Linked DNA regions of Homo sapiens. The protein of the gene in region 1 purifies or fractionates together with the protein of each later gene. This does not show direct contact. Each region holds a gene or a part of one and is shown in the gene's direction. Other genes may lie near its edges. The genes, in order: SGIP1 and HEPHL1.

Evidence for each region.
Region 2: the proteins of SGIP1 (region 1) and HEPHL1 purify together in Homo sapiens (affinity purification with mass spectrometry; one large-scale study listed by BioGRID and IntAct). This does not show direct contact.

Annotation. Positions count from the first base shown.
Region 1 is NC_000001.11:66,733,101-66,736,934, forward strand, and holds part of SGIP1 (SH3-containing GRB2-like protein 3-interacting protein 1), read left to right. Parts: intron 1-647; coding exon 648-780; intron 781-3,834.
Region 2 is NC_000011.10:94,024,089-94,027,922, forward strand, and holds part of HEPHL1 (ferroxidase HEPHL1 precursor), read left to right. Parts: intron 1-3,834. UniProt on the Homo sapiens protein: Is a copper-binding glycoprotein with ferroxidase activity. It oxidizes Fe(2+) to Fe(3+) without releasing radical oxygen species. May be involved in the regulation of intracellular iron content.

The DNA of each region.
Region 1 (3,834 bases):
AGCTTATAGAGACTCTGCTCTTCTTCTGTATTATAACTACCAAAATTATCATTTAAACTCCAGGATCATCTTATAAGTGAAGTGAAATCTTTGATGATTTAAATGCTCATGGATGAAATATTATGAATGCTGAAAAGGCAGCATGGTAATTTTAGTATCACTCTTTTCTGCTTAGTTGGTGATAAAGACCATGTTTACATTTGGCCAAATATTTCACTGGATAATTTCTGAGAAACTACTGGTCAAAGTAATTCAAAAGTAAATAAACGTATTCAGTTCCTTAATTGCCTTAACTGACTAATTTAGACAAAGCTGGTTTCATAGAAAGGGATATTAAGTTTGAGTTAATAAATAATTCACTCTTTAAAGCTCCCAATTATCATCGCAATTAGTTAATATTACTGAGCACTCACTGAGATTGATAGCAACACAGTAGCTCCTCCTCGTGGATATTAATCTACCAACACCATAGCATTCAGAACTGTATTTGTATGAAAACCACACTACTGTTAATAGATTCATAATAATCTCTACAAATTGTCAAAAAATGGCTGTACATATCAGACGACAATTTGCTAAGATGCTTCGTGTAGGGTTTATATTTGTTTTAAGATGCTACTCAATCATTTTTCTTCCCAAATGAACAGTGATAATACACAAAATGATGCCAATACCAAGGAATTCTGGGTAAACATGCCAAATTTGATGACTCACCTAAAGAAAGTGTCTGAACAAAAACCCCAGGCTACATATTATAACGTTGACATGCTCAAATATCAGGTAAGCCTATTTACATGATCGGTATCTCTTCCACATGACATATTTGTTTTCTAAAGTACCTACTATTGAATAAAAGTAACTAAAGTAACACTTCTTTTAACAGTATTTAAAAGCTATAACTCATTTTTTTAAATGGAAACTTTAAAAGATAACTTGGGGACTACTGACAAAAATATTCATACATATTCTTATTAGTTTAAGCTTACAAGTAAAATATTTTATCACAAAATTAGAGAAATGTGCCACAAAAAAATGAAGTTGCAAAACATTATACTAATTAAGATTATAAGTTTATATTGATAAACAAGATGATTATAATTTTGTTAAGAACATTACTATACTAAAACCTCTTATTTTAAATGATTCAAGGTACACAATCTGCTTTTGTTTTTCTAGTAAGATAGTCCTATGAAAGAATTCTAATAAAATCTAACACTAAGAAATAGTTCAATAATAAAGGAATGTTTGATACTTACAATATATGAGAACTTTCTTTTTGTATCTAGAATTGCCCTTATCTCAAATTATTATTGATATACTAAATAAGCCTAATTCATACCAGGATCCTGATAGTGCCTGAGTCTCTCATTGGTTCCCAGCCACTTGACTGCCTAGATTTTTTTGGTTTTTTTTTTTTTTTTTGAGACAGAGTCTCACCCTATCACCCAGGCTGGAGTGCAGTGGCACAATCTTGGCTCACTGCAATGTCCACCTCCTGTGTTCAAGCGATTCTCCTGCCTCAGCCTCCTGAGTAGCTAGGAATACAGGCATGCACCACCAAGCCCTGCTAATTTTTTGTATTTTTAATAGAGACGGGATTTCACCCTGTTGGCTATGCTGGTCTGGAACTCCTGACCTCAGGTGATCCGCCCGCATCAGCCTCCTAAAGTGCTGGGATTACAGGCATGAGCCACCACACCAGCTGACTCCCTAGATTTTTTTAAACTTTTTTATTTTTTAAATTGACAGGTACAATTGTATGTCTGTATTAGGTACAACATGATATTTTGAATATATGTACGTTATGGAATGACTAAACTAACATACGTATTACCTCACATAGTTATTTTTGTGATGAGAACACTTTCCATTCACTTTAGCATTTTTCAGGAATACAGTATATGGTTATTACCTACAGTCACCACCTTATGCAATCAATCTCTTGAATTTATTCCTCTCATCTAACTGAAATTTTGTGTCTTTTGACCAACATCTCTCTAAACAAACCCCCACCCCACCCCACCACCACTACCTCAGCCTCTGGTAACCACCATTCTACTCTCTAATTCTATAAGATCAACTTTTATTTTTATGTTATTTTATTTTATTTTATTTTATTTTATTTAGTTTTTTGAGATGAAGTCTCCCTCTGTTGCCCAAGCTGGAGTGCAGTGGCACGATCTCGGCTAATAGCAACATCCACATCCTGGGTTCAAGCGATCCTCCTGCCTCAGCCTCCCAAGTAGCTGGGATTACAGGCATGCACCATCATCCTGGCTAATTTTTGTATTTTCGATAGAGACGGGGTTTCACCATGTTGGCCAGGCTGGTCTTGAACTCCCAGCCTCAGATGATCCCCGTTCCTTGGCCTCCCAAAGTGCCACTGTGCCCAGCCAAGATCAACTTTTAAATATTCCACATAAGAGTGAGATCGTGTGGGCCGGGCGCGGTGGCTCACGCCTGTAATCCCAGCACTTTGGGAGGCCGAGGCGGGTGGATCATGAGGTCAGGAGATCGAGACCATCCTGGCTAACAAGGTGAAACCCCGTCTCTACTAAAAATACAAAAAATTAGCCGGGCGCGGTGGCGGGCGCCTGTAGTCCCAGCTACTCGGGAGGCTGAGGCGGGAGAATGGCGTGAACCCGGGAGGCGGAGCTTGCAGTGAGCTGAGATTGCGCCACTGCAGTCCGCAGTCCGGCCTGGGCGACAGAGCGAGACTCCGTCTCAAAAAAAAAAAAAAAAAAAAAAAAAAAAAGAGTGAGATCGTGTGGTATTGGTCTTTCTGTGCCTGGCTCATTTCATTTACCACGTTTTTAATGCATTATAATTTTTTATTAAATATGTTCAGATTATTTTTCTTCAAATGAAGGAAGTTGTACTTTAATAAAAATCAGGACATCTCAAACTTGACTGTATTTCTCAATCAAATGCTGGTTCTGAATTGATGCTAAAAAGAAATATATGTGTATACATATTTAAATAATATAAATATTTATTTATAATATTTACATATACAACCTAGATACATATAAAACCTATACAATCTATAACATATAAAATAACACATTATATTCATAAATATAAATATTTATACAAATATTTTAAATATAAATATTTATACAAATATTTTAAATATAAATATTTATACAAATATTTTAAATATAAATATTTATACAAATAGTTTAAAATATTATATAAAATATGCAAATATATAAATATGATATATGTGAATATAATACGATATATTATATGTGAATATAATATGATATATGTGAATATAATATATAATATATGTGAATATATTATATGTGAATATAATATATTGCGTATTATATGTGAATATAATATATTGCGTATTATATGTGAATATAATATATTGCGTATTATATGTGAATATAATATATTGCGTATTATATGTGAATATAATATATTGCGTATTATATGTGAATATAATATATTGCGTATTATATGTGAATATAATATATTGCGTATTATATGTGAATATAATATATTGCGTATTATATGTGAATATAATATATTGCGTATTATATGTAAATATAGGTAGAGATCATTATTAAATATACATATATGTATTTTGGGGGGTGTTAGGACCTAGCAGATATATATATTAAATATACTTTTTAAATTTTATTTAATTGGTTTAGAATGCCACCCAGGTATCTGTACTTTGTATAAGTTTCTCAAGGGAGTCTATGCATCCTCTGCTTTGGAAAACATTTATTTAAATTGTTGTAAGAAAACCATTTAAAGTGAAATATCTATAAAATGGTGTATTTTCCAGAAATGCAAAAGAATATAATTTTTTCTTGTGAG
Region 2 (3,834 bases), on another chromosome or scaffold:
GGAGGGTGAATAGGCTGCCTTTCTGAGGACAGTCTGTTGTTTTGGATATTCACACTTGGGCAAATGTCTGATATTTAAAGGACCAGGAGAGCCAGGTGCTCAGAATTCCACCATGAATGGAAAGAACCTGAAATAGAAATCCAGAGACCTAACTTCTAATGCTTGCTCTGCCCAACTTGCTGTGTAATCTTGAACATGTCATATAATCTCTCTGAATATCACTTTCCTTAATTTGTGTAAGAAGGGAGTTGAAATGTAATCCCTAGAGTCACTTGAGAAGTGTAATGCCAAAGCATTAGAAATAATTTTGAAACTGAATGAAAAATATCTTTCCTGACTTGCCAGTTCTAGAAAGATTTTTGCAATGGTGAAAGAAAGGAGAGAGATGATTTGCAAATGTTCAGTCCTAGAAATTAGAGTTGGAGAAGACCTGGGACTGATCGTGGGCATATGTGACAACTTTTGAAGTAGTCTTTATTTTTCTTTCTCCATTTTTTCCCCTGTCCTTTAAGAATTATCTCCAATTCCTCACTTCATACATGAAGCTTTCCCCCATGACCCTGGCTTGTACTGATCTGTTTCCTTCCTAACCACTCATGGAGCTTGGGGTCTTTATCATGAACTTGGACACTGCATTTTCTTCCCTCTGCATTGCCCTCTAATTGCTTGATGTACATTAGTCATGTCTGCAACTGCAGTAAAACACCCTGATGATAGATAAGAAGTTTTGGCGTATATTCAATAATCCCCCTTCCCTGCACGGAACTTTGTCATTGACAATATCCTATGGAGGATCCAGTACAGGGCAGGCATTCAAAATCATTGAAGTAAAAGCTAATCACCTTATCAACTGAGTTGTTCTGGTTGTTTTATCTTTGAATAAGGGGAATGGGCAAAAATCTGGGGAACAAGATGGTGGGTGCCAAAGTTTCAGTAATGTGAAAACATTTGGAAACCAAAGTTAGGCACATCCTTATGCACAAGGACGAGATCGAAAATGAATTGAAATCATTTTGCTGAGACTCTATAGCCCTCAGATGGTGCAAATTAACTTTTATGCTTGGTACCTATGCTTGATTATAGGGTTCAAAAATATAATTGAGTCTATAATCACTAATGTTTCCTAGAAAGTATAGGATTTAGGAGTTAGATTCTATTTAGAAATACTTTCTCCAGATAAATATACTTCTCCTCCTCCTTGGAGTAAATGGGGACACTGGGCTCCTTTGAGTTGCCTGGGGATGGTGTCAGTATTTTGATCTATTTATACCAGTCCTGCTCAGGCTCATAAAGTCCTTAATTAAGGTGTGTGTTTGGTGGTAAAGCCTGATCCTTAATGGAAGTAGGGTGGGGTCATCTTATTTAAAGCCACAGTTCTCACCATAGACCTCATTAGGCCATCAACACACATTCAGCCTTTTTCTTCCCAGTGAAATGCAGGGTTTTCATGGACGCTAACTCATGGGTGGAACTGCGCTTGAACATAAGTGAGGCTAGCCACTGCTCAAACCCCATTTTTGTAGAGTCTGTTAGTTGACCCAGCCACATCACTGCATCAGCCCAGTGTATGGCAAGGGGCTTTGAGTATTCTAAGAAGCAGGCCCTAGGATAGGTGTGAGAGAGAACTCACACATCTATCTGAAAGAAGGACCAACTGAGGGGAAGCAGGGAGGAGACAGAGGTTTTTGTGAGCTTTGAAATAAAGAAAAGAATATCATCTGGTAAGTGCATGGTCTAAACAAATGGTAACTTTCAAATCTCAACTTCTGTCTTATCAGCACCAAAAATATTTTGTTTGGACTGATGCCATATGAATCTCTGGGAACTGCTGTTCTACCCTATATCAGTAAGTGATTGTTTCTGGCTGCCACTAGAGACTGGAGTATAATGTCTTTAACAAATTAGGATTTTGTATTCATTTGTAGAAGAATCCAGAAGTGGGCAGTCCAAGGCTGGTGGGATAGATGGTATAACAAGATATCAGGGGCTTTCTGTATTTCTGATCCACCATCCTTAGCCTATGTGCTTTAAACCCTTTGTGGTTTCCCTCCTCAAGCACATTCATGGTCACAAGATTGCTGTTGGATCTCCAGCCATCGTGTCTACATTCCAGGAAGAAAGAGAGAAAGGCAAAAGGTAGAAGCAGAACAATTTTTGCTGCATCAGCCTTTCAAAGGGTTCTCATTGAAACCCTACCCAACCAATTTTACTTAAATCTCATTGGATACTCATAGCCACAAAGAGGACTTGAAAAAATATAACGTTTCAGCTGTGTACTTTTCTGCCTGAATAAAGATAGAATTTACCTCTGACACTAAGAAAGAAGGGGAGCATGAATATTGCAAGGCAGCTGGCAGTCCCTGCTCCCCTCCCCTACCTCAGTTCTCTCCTGTTTTCCATGATTCACAGGCATCCTCTTAGTCCCCATCTTGCTTTTCCCACCTCCATATGATGGACCCCCAAGGCCTGGTTAGCAGGATCTGAAAGATAACTCATTGACAGTATAATAAGTTAGCTAAGTGTCACTGAGTATTTACTATGCTCCAGGCATTGCTTTAAAAGGTTAGCACACCATGAAGTGGGGTGACCAATCTTCTGTCTCTGGGAGGGAGATCAGGTGGCATCGGGAGGATTTCTCCAGCCAAGTGTAGCCCAGCCTTGGTCTTAGGGAGATGCCAAGGCAGTCCAGTTTGCTGGTAAAGTATGGGGCTCTGGCATCAACTGTCACATTTAGAATTCTTGCCCCACTTTATGGGCAAGTAATTCAATCTCTCTTTGCCTCAGTTTTCTCATCAGTAAAATAGGGATAGTGACAGTACTTGCTTTGAGGGTGTATCAGTTTTCTGTGGCTGCTGTAACAAGTTACAAACTAGGTGGCTTCAAACAACAGCAATTTATTCTCCCCCAGTTTTGGAGGCCAGATGTCTGAACTGCATGTGTTGTCAGGGCCACAATGCCTCTGGAGGTTCTAAGGGAGGGGCCATTCCTTGACTCTTCCAGGTTCTGGTATCTGCCAGCATTCCTTGGCTGTGGCTGCATCACTCTGATCTCTGCCTCCATTTTCATATCGTCGTCTTCTCTCTGTGTGTCTAGCCTATCTTTGCCTCTTACTTATAAGGATGCTTTTGATGGTGTTTAGGGCCCACCCAGCTAATCCAGGATGATCTCCCCATCTCAAGATCCTTAACTTAATCACATCTGCAAAGACCCATTTTTCCAATAAGTTTCTGTGGATGAGGACTGCGGAGTTATCTTTGGGACTTAGGATCTGCACATACTCAGACACAGTGCCTGCCACTTGAGAGCACTTGATCAGCTCTCGTGGTAGCTCTGCCGTCTCACGGGGTTCTTTGGAGAGCAGGAGCCCTGGGGGAAAGACCTTGGCTGGTCACATTTTCCTCTTTTCTAACAAAGCTTTACGCTTTACCAGAAATAATCATAACTGTCATTGATTCAGCACCACTCTCCCAGTTGCTGTGTGTGTGGCTCTACACCTCTTCTCATTGAATCCTTATGATAGCTCTACCATGGTCACTGCTTTACAGCAGAGGAAACTGGTTCAGAGAGGTTAAGTCTCTTCCCCATTTCACAACCAGCAAGTGAGAGAGTTGGGATTCAAGCTCATTTTCATTCCCCCTCATCATGCCATTTGTTTTGAACACACCTTGTATATGAAGGGCTTCTGTGGAAATGAAGAGTGAAAAGGAAGGACCCAAGACATAGGTGGTGCCAGGGACCCAGAGTGAAAGAATGTATATAGAAGCACATCCAGATGGTATTAAAAATTATTAATCTAATAGGGAGGGTGCAGCTTCACCAAACTGAATGTGCAAT